Regions from separate parts of the Homo sapiens genome. Here region 1 is linked to region 2. A link means that fine-mapping ties the variant in region 2 to the expression of a gene that starts in the linked region. Tissue or cell type: whole blood. Region 2 holds a variant in brackets; the other region holds the start of a gene. All regions are shown on one strand. Distances are from middle to middle.

Region 1 (2,751 bases), 24 kb after region 2:
AGGCGCCAGCTAGCAGGCGGCTCCCAGCTCTACCCAGGAGTGCGCACACCCTGCACTCACCAGGGTGGCGGCAAGAAAAAGGGGGGAAGGCGGGGGAGGGGGGCACAACACCTTCCTTTGGGAGGCAGGAATGTGGGAAATGGTGGGTCTCTTAGGTTTCAGGGTGGGGGTGAATAGCCAGTCAGCCAGCCACCGATCCCAAAGGAGCGGATCAACTCTGAACCTGCCAAAAAAGACAGTCCGGTGCCCGGGAAATTTACAAGGTGAAACCGACTAGCTCAGCACTCGTGGGTGGCGCGGAGAAGTGGGGTGGCCGGCGACTCTCAGCTCCCGGGCGCGGGATCCCGCAGCGGCAGCAGGTGGGCTTACCCCCGCCCCTGCGGCCCCCCACTCCCTGGAGTCGCAGTGCCTGGTACCTTTCTGGCGCCGCGCTCCGCGAACTCGCGGGCGAGCTGACGCCCGATGCCTCTCCCGCCGCCGGTGATGAGGACGTTCTCCCGCGACAGGTCCCGCAGCTTGGCGGGCAGCACCAGTCCGACGGCTGCTTTCACCACCAGATAGATCATCTGTAGAGGGAACATCACCAGCGCGCCCAGCCGTTTCCACACCATCCTCCGCGCCGCGGAGCCGGGCAGGGGGCGAAACTCCCCGGGCCGAGCAATACAGGAATTAAAAAACACCCCGAACAATAAATAGTAAACCGAATAAGGAGGAGAGAGGCGTCCCACCTGGCCACTCTTGAAATCACCTCTTCCCAAATGCAAAGCACCGGGTGAGAAAAAGAAAAAAAAAAAAAAAAAAAAGATAAATTCTCCTCTGGGGGAGAAAAAGCGTCTCCTAAGGTTGGGACGGTAAAAGAGGTGGAGGGGGAAGCCGGAGGTGGAAAGTTCTAACAAGAAGTTTCTTGCCCCAGCAGCCGTTTCGGCTGGGGAATTCTCAGGTAATGTTTACAGACTGACAGAGGAGTTTAGGGAGGGGAAGAAAAAAAAAAAAAGGCACCAACCACACGCGCGCACCCTGCCTCGGTCCCGCGGTTTCAAAGTGCAAGATTAAAAAAAAAAAAAAAAAAAAAAAAAAAGCTGATTCCAAATTGTAGCGCCCCCACCCCCACCCCGTCTCCAGAAAAAAAAAAAAAAAAAAAGTGGGGGGAAAAAGTGCTTGGAGCTCCCAATTTCAGCCCGCGAAAGTCTCCCGACTCATTGCTATTCTTGGGCTCAGGAAATTGCTTAAACGCGATCTGATTGCCAGCAACGTGCAGGAGAAGTGGGGGGTCCGGGTGTCAGTTTCTTTACGTGCAGCGCTCGCCCTCGCGCGCGCTCGCTCGCTCCGGCTCCCTCCCTCCCTCTCTGTTCCAGCAGAGGCTGGGAGTTGCCGCTCGATCCAGCTCCCCTTCTCTCCCTTTTTAGCATTTATTGCCTTCTTTTTGTCCTTTCCAACTTGGAGAGGGTCCGGGTGTGGAGCGCGCGTGGATCGGACGCCTTGGTCTGCGCGGCCCTATTCATTCGCTCCCCGGGCAGCCGCGTCGCGGAGAGGGCGGCCCCTTTTTCCCCCATTTTTTCAATACCCCATTAAGTCTGATTGACAGTTAAAGTTGTTGGGAGGCTTCACTACCGTTCCTCTGAGTGGCTGCTGCGGCCTCCCCTCCCCCTGCGCCGTCGCGGGGAGCGCGCATAAGGCGCGCACTCGGGCTCGCCGGGACTCGCGCTCTCCCGGGACTGGCTCCCCTCTCTGCAAGCCGGGACTTGCCGCCGGTGTCCCTGAGGGCTCGCAGCTGTAACTCGAACACGCTGGAACCGACTCCGGCGAGCCGGCTGCCTTCTCGAGACGTTCCTCCTTGCCCGGGCCGCCCGCGGGCCAGGTGATCACCCCGAGTGTGGAGCAGGCCCGGGGGAGCTTGCGTATGCCTTGATCCAACCAGGTCACCCAGGGTTTTATTTCAGGTCATTTGGTCATCCTCGGCCTCCAGGTAGGATCAGGAAGCCACTCCTCACCTTTGCCCGGACCTCTTCTGTGTTCACGTAGAGTGGACTTTTAAAAGCCTGACCCAAGTGCCTCACGATGCTTAGGGGGAAGCCGCTGGGGAGCAGGACTTTGCTTTGAGGGGAGGGAGTAGTCAAGGTAAAGGAACCTCTGCTCCGAGTGCCAATAAAATCCCCACAAGATTAGCTGGGAGCATATTTATTGCTCATCTGAGCTAGAATTACCTTGACTGACACCAATTTCCTTAATAACAAAAGCCTGTAAACAAAACGTCCTATTCGTGCGCCCCTGTGCTGTGCAGCCAGCGTCTCCTGTCCTTGGGTCTCCCTGGACTGCCCTGGCGGGGCACCCACCTTCTAACCTCCTGCCCTTCCCGACCGGAATGTCTCCCCTGCTGGAGGGTGGGACCGAGCTATTTAGAGTTGTCTGTTGCAGGAAGTCTGGGAGGTGAGTCACTAAAAAGCAGCCCCAGTTCAAAGTGCTGATGGGACTTGCCTCCCGCCCCCCTGCACGTTCCCGGGGCCGGAGGAGCGAGAGCGAAGCAGGGAGCTGCCCTGTAATCTGGGGCAGCCGTTTCCAGCCCGCGACTTGTTCAGACGGCGATTCCTGGGCCTCACCCCCAGAGATTCTGATTCAGCAGGGCTGGGTGCGCTGGGATCGGTACTTTCAATGCTCCGCCTGGTGAGAAAGTCACTTCGAAAAACGCTGATCTGCGGGGAGGGGAGGCTGGGATTACCTCGTCACCTGCAAAGACCTAGTTCTGGGGAGAGG
Region 2 (2,751 bases):
GAGGCTGCTTCCCCTCCACACCACTCCCTGTTTTCAGATGCCAAGCTCTTTTTAACCTCCGAAGGCTCTTCACTGTCCCACATTAAGTGTTTTCTCTCACTGTATGCCCACTCCACCACGCACCCTGTCAGCCTGACCTCTGAAATCCAGAGGCTTCTCACCACTTCTCGCCACCTCCACGGCGCCTTGGGGCCCTGCCTCAGCGCCCTTCACCTGGAGCACAAGTGGACCCCTCACCTGGTCCCAAAAGGTCACTTGGCTGCTACCTTTGCCCCAGGGCCCCTGCCTCAGTCTGTTCTCAACACAACAGCCAGAGATCCTTCTAGAATGTGTCAGACCACATCACCCTGCTTATGACTACTGATGGCTGCCCATCTCACAGACTGGAATCTAGTGTTTACTGGGATCGCAGGCCCTTCCTGGTCTGCCCCATCCCTCGTCTCAGCTACTCCCTCCTAGGTCTCGGCCCTGCAGAAGCACTGGCCCCCTCTACCTTAGGGCCTTTGTACTGGCTGCTCTCTGTTCTCTTTTCCCAAGTATCCCTCTCCTTGTAGGGCACCCTCTTTTCTTTTTAAAAAATTATTATGATTATTATTATTTGTAGAGACGGGGGTATCACATTGTTGCCCAGGCTGGTCTTGAACTCCTGGCTTCAAGTGATCCTCCTGCCTCAGTCTCCCAAAGTGCTGGGATTACAGGAGTGAGGTACCACACCTGGCCACCTTCTCACAGGTTCTGCTCAAGTGTCTCTTTACCCAAGAGGTCTTCATGTAAAATGCCCCAACCCCACAAACACCAGCTCTGATTTGATTTACAAATCTACCCTTCTTTGATTTCCTCCTTCCCAGTTGCTGAGACAGGCATGTCTCCCCCTGTGATGAGCACCTAGTGTTCCTGAGGACACTCCTTCAAATGCTAAAACCACGCCCTGCCAAGAGCCAGTACGTGACAACTGGGCAGTCTCCACCTCATCCCTGGGTGTGATTCTTGCGAAACTTTTTGGTTCTGGGACCACTCAGAAAACTCTCCAGGGAAACGATCACAAAAGCTGACTCTGGGCAGGCAGAACACTGCTCACTCCCAGCCAGAAACCCACGGGCTGATGTTTCTTTTCACAAACATCCCCAGCCTACAAGACTGGCCAGGGGCTCCACCTCCATCTGACTGCCCAGGGCCGCACTTGGCAAAACACGGAGGCAGAGAAACTCAGGCTAGAGTTCATGGCTGACACCTCACAACCTTTGCCCTTTTCCCCCACTGGACCTCTTGCTGGAAAGTGCTGGGTGACCTTGGGGTGGGGGTGCCAAGGAGAGGAGGGAGGAGCCAGCATCTACAGACCACCCTTCCCTCACAGCACACATCTCCAGATTACTGTCCACCGGGGTGGGATTCAAATTTGGACAGTCTAAGTAACTCATGCAGGCTGCACTA[C/G]TAGAAGTTTCAAAGCAAGGCTCGGACTCCAAAGGGAAGCTCTTTTAACAACCCTGTCCTGCCTCATTCATTCATTCAAGGACTATTTGTGGAATTGTGTGCACCAGGCACTTTGGAGGCCCTGGGATCCAGCGGGGAATACATTTATCTCACTTGCGGAGTTTGCTTGTGTGTAAGTCCGGGGACAATGAGCATGAACACTTGTTCACGTGAACGAATGACTGTATAGTAAGTAGTTTTCTAGCCACTAGAAAGTGCTAGATGTGCATGGGAGGAACACATAGCTTTGTAGGGGGTTGGAGGGAGTGATTATGGGGTGGGAGTGGTATTCAGATGGTGGGGGAAAGGTGCAGGGAAGTCCTCTTGGTTAAAGTAACATTTTGGAAGAGACCTGAGGGAAGTGAAGGAGGGAGCGATACAGACGCGTGGAGGAAGAGCATCCCTGGTGGAGGGAACAGTTGGTGCAAAGGCCCTGGGGTGGGAATGAGCTTCCCCAGCACGGAGACCAGTGTGGAAGAGCAAGCGGGAGACACCAGCCACAGCAGGACTTTGAATTCTTTTCTGAGATGGGGTAGATTGGGAGGTTGTAAGGAGAAAAAAGACAGCCTCTGACATGAAGCTGGAAGGGGCTGGGCTGGGATGCTTAGGTGATGGGAGAAGAGGGATTCTGGACGGTTGCAGAGCTGGGTGCTGGAGAAAGTGAGCTTCCCAGAGGACACCAGAGCGTTTGGCCTGAGAAAATGGAAGAATGAGGTTGCCGTTCCCTGAGCCCCAGCGCCTCCCTCTCCAGGAGGGTTGGCTCTGGCAAGCCCCAGGTGTGCAGGAAGAGAATCCCAGGTCCCTTCAGCTTCCAGAACAATTGGTTTACGCAGAGGGAGGGGAGGGGAGGCGGTGAGCGAGAAAGCAGTTCCAGGTGGCAAAGGCAGCTCCGGGGGAAGAGGCTGCCCCAGCGCCTGGGACCCACCTAGCGCAGCGGGGGTGAGCCCAGTTTCCAATAACAAAGTGCCCGGGCCGTCCCAACCCTGGCCCTGACAGCTAACGAGCTGCAGCCGGCTCGGTGCGCGGCCGGGAGGCCAGCCTGGCTCACATGATGGCGTGAGGGGGTGGCAGGAGGAGCCGCCAAGCCTCAGCGGGTCGGGCAGGAGGCTCCAGGAAGTCTTTCTGAAAGTGGGCCCAGGGGCGGGCGCGGGGCGGGGCCGCGGGGGTCCCGGGAGGGGCTGGGCGGGGCTGCAGTGCCGGGTGGGGATCGGGCTGGGATCCCAAGCGGCGGATGGGAAAGGGGTGGAAAGGGGATGGGAAGGGGCGGGAGATAGATGGGGA

What was found. PIP is the estimated chance that this variant, and not a neighbour inherited with it, causes the effect.
Region 1: DHRS3 starts here. The variant in region 2 is fine-mapped to the expression of DHRS3 in whole blood (TOPMed, PIP 0.94).

Annotation. Positions count from the first base shown.
Region 1 is chr1:12,616,738-12,619,488 of GRCh38, forward strand. It overlaps DHRS3 (dehydrogenase/reductase 3), which reads right to left and starts at 1,473. Exons shown (of 6, transcript NM_004753.7): 1 at 417-1,473. The coding sequence starts at 611. RefSeq lists enhancers at 1,098-1,729, 1,730-2,361, 2,362-2,751.
Region 2 is chr1:12,592,784-12,595,534 of GRCh38, forward strand. The region is part of intron 1 of DHRS3 (dehydrogenase/reductase 3); the gene reads right to left. Among named protein-coding and RNA genes, the nearest start is that of MIR6730, 15 kb to the left of the region's middle. RefSeq lists an enhancer at 1-498. The variant C/G (reference allele first, on the strand shown) is at 1,432.